Linked DNA regions of Homo sapiens: region 2 is linked to region 1. The links come from fine-mapping of genetic effects on gene expression. Tissue or cell type: T cells. Region 1 holds a variant in brackets; the other region holds the start of a gene. All regions are shown on one strand. Distances are between the middles of the regions.

Region 1 (8,179 bases):
TCCAGCAAAACCTGAACTGTAATCTGTGCTACAGAATGACTCTGAACTTAGTTATTTACTTCCTCTGTCCACTCCTGGCCCACCTGACCCCAGCCATCTCACAAATCTAAATTCTTCATCACAAGAGGGTCAGAAGTAAAGGTCTGAATGATTCATTATGGATCAGTCTCTGCCACCAGGCAAGCAAATCATATCATGATTTTTTCTCTCTTGAAAGGGGTTGGATATTTTCTCTCATCTTTCTCTGTTTCCCTTCTTTCCTCCCTTCCTGCTCCATCTTGTTTCAAATCCTAACATTCTTTAACCCAACATTTTCTAAATATGGCCGGAGGACATTTTGATTCAGACTCCTCAAGGGGAGGGGGCCCTGAAATCTGCATTTTAAACAAGCATCCCAGGTGACTCAGGTGCATGCTAAGGTTTGCAAACCACTGCTTTGGTACCTCTGATGATGAAGTTTGCCACCTACGGAATAGCAGCCGGGACCTGCGTTGCTACAAGTTGGGAAGGAAACTGGGCTTACTGAATCACCTGTGAATGCCTCCTGCAGGGCATAAATGGGTTGATTTGGAACCGGTGGCCTCTCTGATCCCCATACCAGGTCCACAAGATTGGTTGTGATGGACACCAGCTGTCTGTTAGAGCCTTGGAGGGCCAGATCATAACTCTCCCAGGTGTCTGCAGAGACAAGAAGGAGTCACTTGTCCCTTGCCCATTTACACCCCAGGAAAAAATTGTGATTCAGGCAAAGTTAGTCCTGGTTCCCTTTGCCTCCCTTTGCAGCCCAGCTGCCCGGAGCCTGCCCCAGCAGCCTGCCCACCCCCCACCCCCGGCATGTATGCCCACGCTGGGGTATGTTTCTCATCCTCTTTCTGCTTTCCAAGCCTAATGCCCTGAGCCTACTCTAACACTGACTGCCACAAATTGGCTAAGCTTGTCTTTTTCATTGCCAGTGGCTGTGGGTGGTCCTTCTCTTGGGCACTAATTATTTTATCAGGGCTTCAGTGTCACAGTCAAAAGGAATGGTGATGTTCAGGCCATTGGACAGGCTGGCAGAGAAGCCAGTTCTAAAGCACAAGCCTTTCAGTACATATTCATGAGGACTCCCCTTTGGGGGAATGGGCTTGCCAGCTGTCTGAGGCCCCAGAACTCCGGGAGTTGTATTCTCAGGGGCCCTTTTTTTTTTAAACTCAGAAGCCCTCCCAACTCTTTTGACCCTTCTAAGCTACCTTCCAGAAGAGGGTTACCATGTGATTCCAGCATCATCATTGGCAGGGTTCCAGGGCACAGAGGATGGTTCTGGGTTCAAGCACATCCTGGCCTATTCATCCACTAGCTCTTTAATGATTCACTGAGTCTTCTAGGTTGGGTCTCTGCACTCATGAATTTTAAAATATTTGTACTGATTCTTTTAAATGTATTTTAATTACACAATCCATGAATACATCCTCATTGCAAAACATTCTGCAACTACAATTTCAAATGCTCTATCTTTATAGTCCCACCGCCCCTCCTTCTACCAAGGTCCATTTCTTTATATCCTAGGGAAGCTGAGTCACCCTCGTTAGCATGGACAAATTCAGGGACTGAAGGAAGAGCATACCAATGGACAAGAGGAAGGGGTCAAAACCCACACGCCCTCCAGCAGGAATCTCGGTGAGGAGCCAGGTGACAATAGGAGTGGTGCCAACTGAAAGAAAGATAGGAAGCAATGCAGAGGTCACCTTCAGGGCCAGCCCCAGGCTCTCCAGCCAGGGGTTCTGTCTGATGGTCCTACCATGTGTGTCTTCCTTGAGATCAGCCTTGAAAGTCAGTGATGGCCTCAAATTTCCTAAGCTCCCCATAGAGGCCCAGCATGGTCTTACATGCACGCTCTCACCTATACCTTCCTGAACCTAGTCCAGGTCCCAAGACTTGGGGAACAAATCCATGCGGCCCTTCTACCTTCCTTATGGAGCTCCCAGTTGCAGTCCATCTGCCGCTCAGCCTGAGTCCAGTAGCGACTGTCGGTCCAGACAGCTGCTTTCTTCATAGTCACCACTGCAGTTCCTGGGGCAGAACAGAGAAACTTGCAGGTGAGGGTGAAGGGGAGGAACGTGGCATTAGCTGATGGATGTGCAATGCAGTGCTGGCTCTGAGAATGCCACAAGGGGCCTCTGGAAAGAGATTCTCTCCTCCATTGGAAAGAAGTGAGGAAGGAGATCTTAAAAAGAGCTGTGGGGGGAGCTGGCAGAAAGGTGTCCTGAATCAGGCACCTCTGCTTTGTGTTGAGGGCTGCTTGTGGACTTTCAGCAGAAGTGAGGTCAACTTTTGGCTGCATGTAGGCGCTCTCAGGAAAGATGGGGCTCAGCGTAAAGACTCGGTGGCTGATAGGGAGGCTAAACCAGAGGCTCAGCTGAGGACTGCTGGGCAAGAATAATCCAGAGACTTTGGCAAAGGGAAAAAGAGCCTACGAGGCACGAGGCAGGGTAGTTTGAAGCCCAAGGAGGAATGTTTGAGGATCAGGAAAGGAAGCTTGGATTTCATTCAATGGGCCAGGATCACGGTGCGAGGCCCCTTCAGACACTGTGATCTCATCAAGGGCTTATATGTTTGTGTCTCATTTGGCCATGTGAAGTGATGTTGTCCGTAAAACAACCGGCAAAGGAAAACTTTGTCTCCAAATGAGCCCTCATGTGAAAGGAATCAGCGGGTTCTTAGCGGTTAGAGGTAGAAGTAGCAACTATTTAGAAACGGAGCCTGGGAGTGCTGGACTGGGCCTGGTTGCAGCAGAGGTAATGAGCACAGGAAGGCAGCCTCTGCCTCATTTCTACACAGAAAGTGGCTGGTGGGCTATGAGATATGTGCCCTGGGGAATCTGATGGTTTTGGGGTGGTGGAGGGAGACAGAGAGAGTAGAAGGGTTTTCTCTACAGTAGGTTCTGGGGTCCCAGATGCTGAGACACTAGCCACATTAGGTCCTCTGTGACCACCTCTGGATCTACCAACAAAAGCAATGGGGCTGGGTAATGATTGTCACCTGCAGACCCTGTAAAGCCTGTAATCCACGCACGCCTCTCGTCATGTTGGCCGATGTACTCGTTCTAGGAAATCAACAACACCATCATTAGCCTTTTT[C/T]GTGGTATCAGATCCCACATGAAAGGCCCCCAACCACATCCCAGTTATTTCTGTCTGTCGGCTCCAACCCCTTGTCAGCTACAAGCCCAAGCACACCAAGTGCCTCTTCCAGGAAGCCCTCTGTAACTCTCCCAGCCTTCAATATCTTCCCTTCCTTTGAGCAACCGTATCTTTTGCAGTTCAACTCCCCCGCCCCCACACTGTTCACACTGGACTCAGTGTAACACTGGACTGTTCTGCAAAGGAGACTTGTTGCCCTGCCCTGCAAATTCTATGCAGTCTAGGGTCCTGTCTTTTGGCTCGTTTGGGTTTTCCCCTCCAGCTAATCCTTCTCCCTCCTGAGTCAAGCACAGTAGACTGGGAACATCATAACTTCTGCAAAGGGCTTTACACATTATCATATTTTGATCCTCATAATCCTTGGAGATAGATCTCATTACAGACCCATTTCTCTTTGCAGAAGAGGAAACTGAGGCTCAGGGAAGTTCAGATACTTACCCAACGTTCTTAGCCCTTCCCAGCATGTGGGAAAATTAATTTAAACAAGCTCATTGACACTAAAAATGCCCTCTCTTCCAAATGGGCTGGTGTTGGAAAGGTGGATGGTGTGGAGGGTGGAGCTAGTGAGGGGAAACGGTGGGATGGGTGCCCCCCTCCACAACCAACCCCGCGCTCCCTTAACCCAGGATTTTGGATTATTTTGCTACTCCATTCCACAGAGTATGGGAAGGCCTGGGCCAGAAGGGAGCTTGGAGTTCTTCCAGCCCAATTTCCAGCCCACCTTCTAACCTCCTAGGGCAGGGATACCCTAAACATTCATTCTGGATCTGCCTTCTGGGAATTGATGAAAATTGATTCTGAAGTTGTTTATAGTTTAATTTCTTGAGGTTAAGGAGGTTTGGCAATGTCTGCCCGCCTATGTAGAGGGATACATTCTTTCACTTGCCCTAAAACTACCGTGTCCATGCTCTCTACTTCCCTCCCTTTGCCCATCAGATCCTTTCTCTGTCTTCATCTTCTGAGTTTTAACAGCTCCTGTTTGTGGTCTCTGACCCAGGGTAGCAGAGAGGGCAAGGGGGAGAGAAGCTGTCTCTTACCATGTGAGCATCTGTGCCTGGGATGATGTAGGCTGAGAGATTCTGGGTCTGCATCTGCTGGCGGAGGGCTGTGAGTGACATTGTGGTATTGACCACAGTAACTGGAAGGTACTGACAGATGACAAGAAGACATTGAGACACAAACAAACAGATACACACGTTGCTTAGAGAAAATGACATCTGGGCCCCTGGCCTCCAGAAGAGCCCCCAGCCTCTCCTGAAGCAGCGGTTGGGGGAAGTTAGGCTGGCCTGGCTTGGGAAGGGATGGGGTGGCAACTGATGTTACTGCTTAGTCTAGATTAAGATGCCTGGGCTGGGTGGAGATGGAGGTGTTGGAGAGTTTGGAAAGGGACCCCTTGTGACAGTAATGGGACCTGAGTCTGGGATATGGGTGTGGGTGAGAACTGCAGGGGTCTGAGCTCTGGCATTGGGCCAGGCCATGCAGACAGTCCTTCTTTGGCTACCTGGGGGTAGGGTTGCCAGATTAGCAAATAAAAATACAGGACACTCACCTAGTTATGTTTGCATTTCAAATAAACAATGTGTAATGTTTTAATGTAAGTATTATATTAAAACATGCACAATTTGGGGCATACTTGCACTAAATTCTTATTTGTTATCTAAAATTCAAATGTAACTGGGTGTCCTGTATTTTATCTGGCAACCTTCCCTTGGCAGGGCTTTTTCAGGTTGCCACCCACTGGTCCCAAATGGCAGAGGAGAGTGAATGAATGCCCCCAGCAGTTTGAGATATTGCCCAGAAAGACCCTTTCCAGACCAGTTCTCTATTTCTTTACAGGTCATTTTAGCTTTAAAACGAAAAGCATGTTTCCGTTTGTGCTGTTTTGCTTTCTACTCCACGATATATCCATGTTTGTTTTAATATAAAAGTAATGTGGTTTGCCCACCCACCTGCCTGCCCCAGGGGTCCCATAAAGTTGATATTGCTAGCAGATGTACTGCGTTTTTCCCATGGCTTACAGTGCTGCTGGCATGCCTACCCCTTAGCCCTACTCTGATTGTAGAAAGAATCACTCTGGTCTCCAGCTAGGAAGCTGACTACCCAAGCCCCTTCTGCTGGGCCTTTTCCTCGTCTGCACACCCTAGGCCTCCCTCTCTTGCCCTTCCGTTGGCTCTTCTTTGGTTTTGGTTTTGTTTTGTTTTGTTTTTGAGACAGAGTCTTGCTCTGTCGCCCAGACTGGAGTGCAGTGGCACAATCTTGGCTCACTGCAACCTCTGCTTCCTGGGTTCAAGCAATTCTTCTGCCTTAGCCTCCTGAGTAGCGGGGATTACAGGCACCCGCCACCATGCCTGGCTAATTTTTTTATTTTTAGTAGAGACGGGGTTTCACCATGTTGCCCAGGCTGGTCTCGAACTCCTGACCTCAGGTGATCCACCTGGCTCGGTCTCCCAAAGTGCTGGGATTACAGGCGTCAGCCACCGTGCTCGGCCTCCGTTGGCTCTTCTAACCTCTGTCTTCCTCCCTCTTCCCTTCTGTGCTTCTCTTTTTGCTGTCACTCTAGAATTTGTCTTTTCTTTCCTCTGCCTGGCCTCAGCCAAAGGCCAGTTAGGGGCCTCCTGCCCTCCTCCCTCCTCCTAGAGGGGTTTCCCAGGCCCAGATCAGGACGGAAGCAGATAACCTGCTGGGGGAATGAATGGGAGGGAGGGGAGGGCACTGATGTGGAGGGGAGGGAGTGGAGGGGGGAGGGGCCCAAGAGTCCGGAAATCAGGAGAAAGCCTGGTAGGAGGAGGGGCTACCAACTGACCCAATGAGGGATAGAGAAGATGATAGAGCAGGGCGGGGGTGCTGCGGTGCAGGGGTGCGTGGGGCAGGGGTGGGGGGGTGCGTGGGGCCAGGGGGGCCGTGCGCGGGGGGCAGGGGGCACTCACAGGGGGGTTGGTGGAACAGTTTCTCACATCCTGCCCTCCAAGGTCCACTGGCTTTGTGTGGCCCCAGGCACAAGCTAGAAGCCGGGAGAAAAATCCAGGGTCATTTGGGGACCAGCTAGTTCCTAGAGAGGGAAGGAGTATCCTCTCAGCCCGCCCCACGGGGCCTCCATCCTTTGAAACGCACGAAGCTGGCCAGCTCTACTTGAGGATAAAAATAATCACATTTCATAGGAAATCAGGCTGAACTGGATAGCACCCTGGGTCACAATCAAAGAAATCTGTTTCATAGACAAGTGATTGCCACTTTTGGATGGGTTTTAGTGCTCATTAAATCAATTTTTCTTCTAATCTAATTGGGTCTTTTCAGGGTTTAGTGAAGTAGAAAAGTTGTGTGTAAATTAAATTTTTGTTATCAAATTTTCTTTGAAATGCTCTAGAAGATCACGCTAAATAATCACCCCACCTTCATTTTAGCCTTTTATAAATCTAATTGTATGATACATTGGGTTGACTTCAATTCAAGGCCTGCTTGCACTGTTTCTTACAGTCCAAATCTTTGCCTATCATTCCAGGCTCATTTTCAATATATTAGACAGAAATCCTAGTCTGCCATGGTGGGGAAAGATGGATTAATTAGTATTTAAAGACACCCTATTATGTGCCAGATACTGAACGCAGCAATTCATCTACAGTATCTCATTTGATATTTGTGACATCACTATGAGGTGGAAATTATTGTTCACTTTCTGCAGAGGAGGAAGTCAAGGCCCAGATAGATTTGGTAACTTGTCTAACTTGTGCCACCAGGAGTCAGTGGTAGAACAGGGATTTGAACCCAGGCCATCTTAATACAAAAGAGGTGAGCGCACTTTCAGTCCTCCCACTCTGCCAAGTATGAGAGGTGGGCCTGAAAAAGGTGATGCCACAGAAGGGACAGAATATATGGAGATCTAGTTTCTAGTTTGGGCTCTGCCCCCAATTTAGAGTGACTCGAGAGTGACCCCCCCCCAATATTCATTGAGCAACCATCTCCTAAGCGCCTACTGTGTGCCAGGCACTGGACTAAGTTCTCCAGGCTCTGGACCTCTGGAAAGGAGGGGCTTGAATTAGACAAAGCGGTCTCTGATAGTCCTTGCCTCTAACCCCCCTGTCTTTTAGGGAGGGATTTCCCTAGATGGTAATGGGGCCCTGAGTGTGGGGAGACATTACACTCCCCCGCCCCCCCTCCTTTTTTTTTTTTTTGAGACAGAGTCTCTCTGTCACCCAGGCTGGAGTGCAGTGGGGCGATCTCAGCTCACTGCAACCTCCGCCTCCCGGGTTCAAGCGATTCTCCTGCCTCAGCCTCCCAAGTAGCTGGGACTACAGGCATGCACCCACCACACCCAGCTAATTTTTGTATTTTTAGTAGAGATGGGGGTTTCACTATATTGGCCAGGCTGGTCTCGAACTCCTGACCTCAGGTGATCCACCCGCCCCGGCCTCCCAAAGTGTTGGGATCACAGGCGTGAGCCACTGCGCCCAACGCCCCCCGCGCCCGCATTTTTTTTTTTTTTGAGATGGAGTCTCCTTCTTTTGCCCAGGCTGGAGTGCAGTGGCACAATCTTGGCTCACTGCAATCTCTGCCTCCTGAGTTCAAGCGATTCTCCTGCCTCAGCCCCCCCTGAGGAACTGGGATTACAAGCGTGCGCCACCATGCCTGGCTAATTTTTGTAATTTTAATAGAGACAGTGTTTCACCATGTTGGCCAGGCTGGTCTCGAACTCCTGACCTCAAGTGATCCGCCTGCCATGGCCTCCCAAAGAGCTGGGATTACAGGCATGAGCCACCACGCCCAGCCACACTTTCGAGTGGGCTGAGCTACAGATGCAAGGAGGGTGGCTGGGGTTCAACACCATGAACGTCCTGTGTGATTTTATCTTGGTCTCATAAACTCAAGGATCAGATGCGACCCATACTGTTCATTTAAGAAAACAAACACCCATTTCTGTAGAAACAGATCCCTGGCAAAATGTTGGCACTGATATGCTAACATAAGAATGAGGACACAGCCAACTTATGTCTCTCTGGACACCAGAA
Region 2 (8,179 bases), 35 kb before region 1:
AAAGCAGGTGGGAGTGCAGAGGGGGAAGGGCTCTGGCGGGGCTTTGTGGAGGAGGTATATCTGAGCTGGGCCATGCAGGGGAGGCAGGATTTCTCCAGGTGGAGCTCGGAAGGGTTTGAACAAGAATGAAAGTTAGAGACGTTGAGAGCCTGATGATGGGATGGTGGGTGGGGGAGTAGAAAAGGCTATGGAAGGCTCTTGCCCGCCAGGCCAAGGGCATGTATCCTGTGGGCAGTGAGGAGCCACTGAAAATACAAAGTGCATGCTGGCAGGGTGTGGGGGTCATACTAGAGGTGTGCTGTAGGAAGGGAGCCATGGAGAAAGTGGGGATGTGGTAGAGTAGGAGCATCCTTAGGGGAACCAAGTCCAGGAAAAATCCCTCTCCACTTCCTATACCCCAACACTGGCCTTTGGGTGAAATCAGATCAAAGGGCTTGCAGAGCAAGAACTTGAAGGAAGTGAAAGTCTCCAAAGGGCAGCTAAGAGGTCTGTCTCCCAACCCTGGGGCCTCTCCAATCCTTCACGATCCATGGGAGGCGCCATGTCCTAGCCCTACCATTCTAGAGGGCCCGCACCCTCCTCTGCTCTGCTGGCTGGAAGGTCACTCATTCCACAGCTATCTGGGTCTGCCCCACGGAGCTCTCCTGCTGATGGGTTGAATCTTTTATGCTCATCAGACTCTTCTAGCGCCTTTGAGATCAACAAGGGGACAAGAGAGTGGAGAGAGAAGGGGTCAAGATTCTGGAGTCAGACAAATCTTGGCTTGGATCCCTGCTCGGCAGCTTCCCAGCTGTGTGACCTTCAGCAAGTTGCTTCACCTCTGTGAGCCTCAAGTGTCAAATAGGGATAATGACAATATCTGCCCCTACCTCACCAGGTTGTCGTGGGGAGTGAACAAGGTAAGAGATGCACAGCACCGTGCCTGGCATCCCATGAGCTCTCACTCTGTGGTGGCTCTTAGTACTATTAAGTCTTGTGTTCTCTGTGCCAGCACTGGGGGCATGGCTCATTCTTCTTTGCAGTGTCTCCCTATCCCCACCCATGCCTACAGCAGGCACCCCCTTGTGTGGTATGCACGTGCACACTTGTGACAGGGTACTCTCACATCTATTCTTTTGGGTGATCTGTACAACCTCTTGAGGGGGGCAGATTAGGAGTTATCCTCCTTTTCAGAGGCGAGGAAACTGAGGCCCAAAGAAAGTCAATGAGCTGTCCAAGGTCCTACAGCTAGAGCGTGGTAGGATTCCAGCTCAGCTTTCTTGCCCCCTGTCTGGCACATTCTCCATTGGCAGGCCCAAGAGGAGAAGCAGGGGCAGGAGAAAGAGGCCTCTCTTGCCTTTGTGCTTTCCTCTCCACCACGTCATCTCAGCCTCTGAGAAGAAGGGACTAGCAGTGATTCAGCCAGCCCGCTGCCTCTGGGCCTGGGGAAGATGCTCTGTACCTTCTGGAAGCTTGGCTTCTGGGGGACATTTCCATAGTCTGGGGCTAGCAGAGTGTGTGGAGGCAAGCTCATCCCAGCTCTGGAGGCTGGCACCGGCTCTGGCAGGGGTTGGGGTGGGGTTTGCCTGGACTACTCTCCCCGAAAGGACCCCTTCTCCTGGGAGAGACCTGGGGAAATCCCAGGGGCCCACTTGCCTGCCGAACACAGAATCTGGGTAATTGAAGCTGGGAAAGAAAAAGGGGACTTCTGGCTTCTGTGTGCCCCTAGGTACGTCTTCCTGATGTGGCACAGGGTCCCAGTGTCAAAGTGTCAGCTCTTTCTCACACTTTCCTCCAGCTCAGCGCCCCTGTGGTTTGAGGCCTAGCAGTGTCTATAGAGCAATCTCTGTTTCCCACCCCCACCAGCCAGAGAGCAAGGGGAAGTGGCCCTGCTCTCTTAGGAGTGGCAGCCAATGGCAGTCCTGCTGGGCCTAGCACCCTGCAGGGTTTGGACGGGGATGACAGAGCCCGTGTGAAGATTCATGAACCTCCCCCCTCCCCCGCCCACCACCACTGCAACCTTAGAGAAGCAGCTGGGGTGGGGAGAATACAGCCGGAAGTGGCAGCCACCCCAGGACCTGAGAGCTGGGGCAGGATGCACACCCCACTGCCCCGAGTCTCAGTCTTTCAGCTGCCTTGGCCTCCATCTCTGAGCTACTCCCCTGACAAGGGGGATCCACCATAGGGCACCTGGGCTGAGTTCCAGGGAAAATTGGCGGGGGATAGCCTGGGCCTCTTGGACCTAGTTCAGGCCTGCTTTGGGACTGTCCTAGCATCCCATTGGATGTGTAGGATATACTTGCTGATTGTCTGGGAGAATCCTTCAATTGAATTAAAGAATTAGGTCTAGAAATCCTCAAACCCAACCAAAGAAATCTGGAAATCCTCAAATTCAACCACAAAATCCTAGATCTGGCACAGCCTTCAAGGATTCTTCCAGTCCGGTCTCTGCCCCAGGGGGATGAACACCTCAGCCATCCATGACAGCTGTTTTTCCTCCTGGCCTTTAAAATCCTCCCTCCTCAGCCTTCACTCCTACTCACCACCTCAACTTAATTTCTCATTCCCCACCCAGGAAGAACCTGTATGCCCCCTGCATCCCACTGCACTTCCGGATGCCTTTTCCCCCAAGACTGGAATGGCCTCAGGCCCCCATCTCCAGGTTGGCTCCATCTCGGGTAGGGCCTGGGAGCTACCACAGAGCTGAGCCAAGTGGGCAGGGTCTGGGCCATGGCCAAAGTGGAGGAGGGGGTGGCAGTCCTGTGAGCATCATGGCTCCAAGCTGGGCAGCCCAGCAGGGCCCTTTGAGTGAGATGGCTCCTGAGAGGCCGTGGCCGGGGCAGAAGTGGCAGCAGGACCAGCGTAGAGGAGAGATAGTTAAGTACAAGCTTAGGGTTCAGCTTAAGCATTGTATTTTGTTATTCTCAAATTCTAGTCTAAGATTCTGGCCCCTAATTTTAGATCTTTTTTCCCATTCTTCTAGGGTTGAATTGCATGACTCTAGATTTCTAAGGATCTATTCTGTAACTCTGTTGCTCCAGAATTTTAAACATCTCTTCTGTACTTCTGTTAACCTTTGGGTCCCTGTCCCGTTGCCTTCTAGGTGAGTGGCCCTCACCTACAGACTCAACATATGGCCTTTGGCTCTTCCCACTTCCAAGAGTCTTGGAAGGGATGGGTCGAGCAAGCAGAGGAAAGGAAGATGTGAGTTCCCAAAATGCTCCTCACCTTTTTCTTCTGAGTGGGCTCCTTCTCACTGGCATTGGAGGGCTTGCGGCGCAGCATGGTCCTCCACCCTGGGAGACTCCGTCCCTGCTCTCCTAGGTGTCAAGATGCAGAGGCCTCTTGCTTAGCCTCACCAGAACTGCCCGGGGGCACGGCATGAACCGAGCCTTCAGCTGCCACTCTGACTGCTGCAGTGGCAGCTTGGGGGTGCGGGCCATGGACACCCGGCAGCAGCAGCATACAGGAAGCCCTGCCACGTGACCTACTCTTACAGCAATCGCAGCCCCTGCCGGCCCCTAGGGAGGAAGGAAGTCCAAGCTTCAGTCTCCAGAGATTCTGATGCAGACGGCTCTTGGGTTGAACAGTCAGAGAAAGTCCCTACCTTGTTGTCTCATGTCGATCATCATCAGTCCTTCTGCTCCATCTTCCTAGAGGTGGACAATCAGCTCGACATTATATGGCGTACCCAAGCCCTTTATCTCACTGACCAGAATCCAGAAACCAGAAGTTGGACCATCTGGCTGCCTGTTGGATCAATGCTCCCGGTCAACTCACGTCTTCAAGGTCGTCACTGCCATCACTACCACTACCATCACCCCTGTGACCATCACCACTGCTACCATCACTCCTATCAATAGCCATCACCATACAGCCATCACCCCTACAGCCATCAGGCCTGCAGCCATCCCCGCTGCCATCAGCACACCTATAGCCATTGTCACTATGGTAATCACCTCTACAGTTGACATCCTTCAGCCATCACCTCTACAGTCATCACCATTGCTGCTATCACCCTTCCAGCCATCATCCTTACAGCTGTCACCCTTCTGGACATTACAGCCAACCGCACTCATGACCCTCTCACCCCTATAACCATCGTCCCTACAGTCATCTCTCCTACAACCATCATCACATCCGTGCAGCCATCAGCCCTGCAGCCATCACTCCTACAGCCATCAGTACACCTAAAGCCATCATCACTAGAGCAGTCACCCCTCCAGTCAGTACCCCTCAGCCATCATGAGTATATTTATCACCACCACAGCTGAAAAGCACTTACAGCCAACTCCACACCTCTAGCAAGTATCCAACAGGCATTTATCAAACACCTATGCAGTATATTCAATTTGTGGGTTGTCTGTGGCAGATTTTAATAACTTTAATAACTTCTTGGTATTACAAAAGCAACTTGTATTTGTCATACAATTTCACAAACACATAAACAAAAAAAATTTCAAAATTTCCCATCATTGTCCTCTACACTGTTTTAAGCATCTATCTACTCTCTGTCTATAAACATTTTTTTTCTTTTTACAAAAATCATACTGCTCAGAAAACAGATAATTGGTTTGGGGAGAAGGGGAGGGGAGAGAAGGGAAGGGAGACATCACACAGGGTAACAGGAAGCTTTTAGGAGTGATGAATATGTTCACTATCTTGACTGTGGTGATGATTTCATGGGGGAATACACATGTCAAAACGTATCAAATTGTATACTTCAAATATGTGCAGTTTATTGTAGCTCCATTATACCTCAATAAAGCTGTTTAAAATTTTTTAATTAAAAAAGGTCATAATTCACACTATTGGTGTCTGCTTTTCACACTAAACACAGTATCTTTTTTGTTTTTTTTTCGAGATGGAGTCTCTCACTCTGTCTCCCAGGCTGGAGTGCAGTGGCGTGATCTCGGCTCACTGCAACCTCCACCTCCTGAGTTCAAGCAATTCTTGTGCCTCTGCCTCCCAAGTAGCTGGGACTATAGGTGCGTACCACCACCCTGGTTAATTTTTGTATTTTTTGTAGAGACAGGGTTTCACCATGTTGCCCAGGCTGGTCTTGAACTCCTGGTCTCAAGTGACCTCTTTGCCTCATCCTCCCAAAGTGCTGGGATTACAGGCGTGAGCCACTACGTCCAGCTGAACACAGTATCAAGATTGTCTCATGCTATGAAATAGTCTTCAACTACGTAATTTATAACGGCTGTGGAACATCCCATTGTGTGGATGTGCCGTGCTTATTTCACCAAGCCCTTGCTGATGAACTTGGGTTGGCTTAAATTTTTAAATTATTCATTGAACATACTTATGGTAAATATTCACATCCATAGTTTTTTTTCTGTAGGGGAAATATCCAGAAGAGGAATTGCTGGGGTCAAAGGTATGCACATTTTTAAGGCTTTCAATTCTGTGGTACTTGTGAAATACTAGGCTTGTCCACCCCTGTTCCCAAGATGTTCTCGTGACTTCCTCTCCGATTCTGCTTTATGCCCTCTGACCATCCAACCTTCAGGGTGAGCTCAGGGAAGATAAGATCTTTCTTCCCTAAGCTGAAACCATACATTCTTTGGCCTACTCAGTCGGCCAGGCAGACTCATGAAAAGATTCCACACCCCAGATCTCCTTCCCACTGGCCTGTGTTTTCCACCCTGAAAGTCCCTCCCAGGCGGCCCAGGGTCACTAGCAAGCGCGGTAACTGGTTAAGGCTTTTCGGCATATACAGTAGCCTGGCAGCCGTGTAGGGGACCCATCGGGCCTTTGGGGCTCTGCGTGACCAGGAGCAGGAGGGCAGCCCCAGAGGGTTCTGGGATTGGGGACGCCGCTGTAGTGGCCTGGGGCACCTGGAGCCAGAGCCGTGAGGGAGGAAGCAGGTCGCAGAATCTTCCGGGCCTGCGCAGCGGCTGCGTCCCTGGCCGCCTCGCAGGATGTGCCCGCTTCCTGTTTGCTCAGCGCCGGCAGCGACAGAAGATCACACACTAACCGCAGAACCTTCAAAGGCGGCCAGCAAACCAGGGCACAGGGCTGGCGAGGCTTGGGAAAAGGCAGCGAGAGGGAGGTGAGGGTGCCTTGGAGAGAAATATGGAGAGGTGACCAGCTCCCAGGACAGAAGGGAGCAAGTGTTTTCAACGGCTTCCTTCGTTCTCCTTTTCAGATCTGTCTCCTCTGTTCAGGAACACCTCCTCCCCGCCACCTGGGGACCGGGGCCAGTGGAGGCGGGGTGTCCAGGACCCCCCATCGGGACTTGCCTTCCCCCAGCTTTTCTCTTCCAACAGATTGCCCTGGCTGAATCCCAATAGGCCAGGTCCTTGCTGGCTAATGACCCTTAAACATGTGTTTAATAGATTTTCCCTTCTGGGTAACATATTTGCATTTTACAGGTTATGTTGTTTGAGGTACGCAGAGCTCTCAGCTAAGGAAGTGATACGAGTCAGTAGTTCAGGGAACAAGGTCACCTTAAACTTGATAATGGGCCGGCAGGCAGAACCTAGGAACTTGCTGTGGGCACAGCCTTGTGCTAGGCCTCGGGAGGAGGTACAAAATAAATAGCCATCAGGGCCCCTTGTACCTGGGAGCTGACATCCTAGGTGGAGTGGCAAGCTTACATTTACCCAGCACTTGTTCTTTACCAAGCACTACATTAAGCACTTGACAGATGTTTAATCCCACCACAACCCCTGGAGGCGAGTAGTTTAATATAAAGACGTATCCAGAAGTATAGATTTGGGGCAGAAGAACCTTGATTTAGCGCCAATACTGCAGGATTGCAGGGTGTGTATGTGTGTGTGTGTGTGTGTGTGTTTTGGGGTTCCACTGATAGTGAAATCAACCTGAACCCTCAGAGGGTGGATGTAGGACTACCAAAGACACAAAGGTCATCGTAGGCCACATTCAGATAAAGCAGCTCCCACACCAGCACACTCCAAGTATTTTTTTAAATTTAATTTAATTTAATTTTTTTTTGAGTCTTACTCTGTTGCCTAGGCTGGAGTGCAGTGACGCGATCTCGGCTCACTGCAACCTTCACCTCCTGGGTTCAAGCTATTCTCCTGCCTCAGCCTCCTGGGTAGCTGGGACTACAGGCGCATGCCACCATGCCTGGCTTATTTTTTGTGTTTTTAGTAGAGACGGGGTTTCACCATGTTAGCCAGGATGGTCTTGATCTCCTGACCTCGTGATCTGCCCACCTTGGCCTCCCAAAGTGCTGGGATTACAGGTGTGAGCCACTGCACTCAGCCAAGAAATTCTTATTTAGTAGATGATCATGAGTGGGATATTTGGGGCAGGTAAGATCCAGACCATGTACAAAAGCATCTCTCACTCTCTGAATGGATATATTTCTAATTTGAGATAGTAAGAGTTTGGATAGTGAGAGATACTTATATCTGGAAAAACCTCCCAAAAGATTCTTTAAGTTTTAATTAATTAATTAATTAATTAATTAATTAATTTGAGACAGGGTCTCCCTCTGTTGCCCAGGCTGGAATGCAGTGGTGTGGTCACAGCTCGCTGCAGCTTCAAACTCCTGGGGCTCATGATCCTCCCACCTCAGCCTCCCGGGTAGTTGGGACTACAGGCACGTGCCACCATTCCTGGCTAATTTTTTTTTTTTTTTTTTGCCTATGTTGTCCAGGCTGATCTTGAACTCCTGGCCTCAAGTGATCCTCCTGCCTCTACCTCCCAAAGTGCTGCAATTACAGGTGTAAGCCACTGCACCCGGCCCCCAAAGATTCTTATTTCCATTCCCCCCAGTCCCCACATCTAGCTGAAAATTATTATACTTCATGGCAGGCAGTGGGCTTTACAACAACCTGGTAAGTCAGGCACTATTGTTATCCCCATTTTCCAGGGAGGAAGCTGAGGCCCAGAGGAGTTAAGTGAATTGCCCACACAGCTAGTAAGCAGTGGAGCCCAGCGTTAAATGCAGGTCTGGTCTTGGCCAGGGCCCACACAACTAACCACTCAGCTGAAGTGCCTCTGATGCGGAGTTCCTGAACGGGGAGGTGAGAGAATTATGGAGCCCTCGGCTTGCAGCCTTCTCTTGGCACCTGATGCTGGTTTGGGTGCCACACTAGGTGCCACAGAGCCACCTTGAAGCAGGCCCAGAGGGGAGTGAACAGGATGGGGAGGACATCTGGAAGTCGCATCACATCTGCAAAGCTGCAATAGCTAGGGTCGATTAAGCGGGGGTGAAGTATAG

Evidence for each region. PIP is the estimated chance that this variant, and not a neighbour inherited with it, causes the effect.
Region 2: SASH3 starts here. The variant in region 1 is fine-mapped to the expression of SASH3 in T cells (TOPMed, PIP above 0.99).

What each region holds. Positions count from the first base shown.
Region 1 is chrX:129,740,106-129,748,284 of GRCh38, reverse strand. XPNPEP2 (X-prolyl aminopeptidase 2) reads right to left here. Exons shown (of 21, transcript NM_003399.6): 2 at 6,104-6,177; 3 at 4,214-4,324; 4 at 3,019-3,082; 5 at 1,945-2,049; 6 at 1,604-1,690; 7 at 532-678. Among named protein-coding and RNA genes, the nearest start is that of XPNPEP2, 5.2 kb to the right of the region's middle. The variant C/T (reference allele first, on the strand shown) is at 3,117.
Region 2 is chrX:129,775,183-129,783,361 of GRCh38, reverse strand. SASH3 (SAM and SH3 domain containing 3) reads right to left here and starts at 3,413. Exons shown (of 8, transcript NM_018990.4): 1 at 3,208-3,413. The coding sequence starts at 3,264. It overlaps LOC124905215 (a long non-coding RNA gene), which reads left to right and starts at 828. Exons shown (of 2, transcript XR_007068328.1): 1 at 828-899; 2 at 3,083-4,787. RefSeq lists enhancers at 1,456-1,505, 1,616-1,795, 3,063-3,122, 3,173-3,252, 3,503-3,662 and 2 more.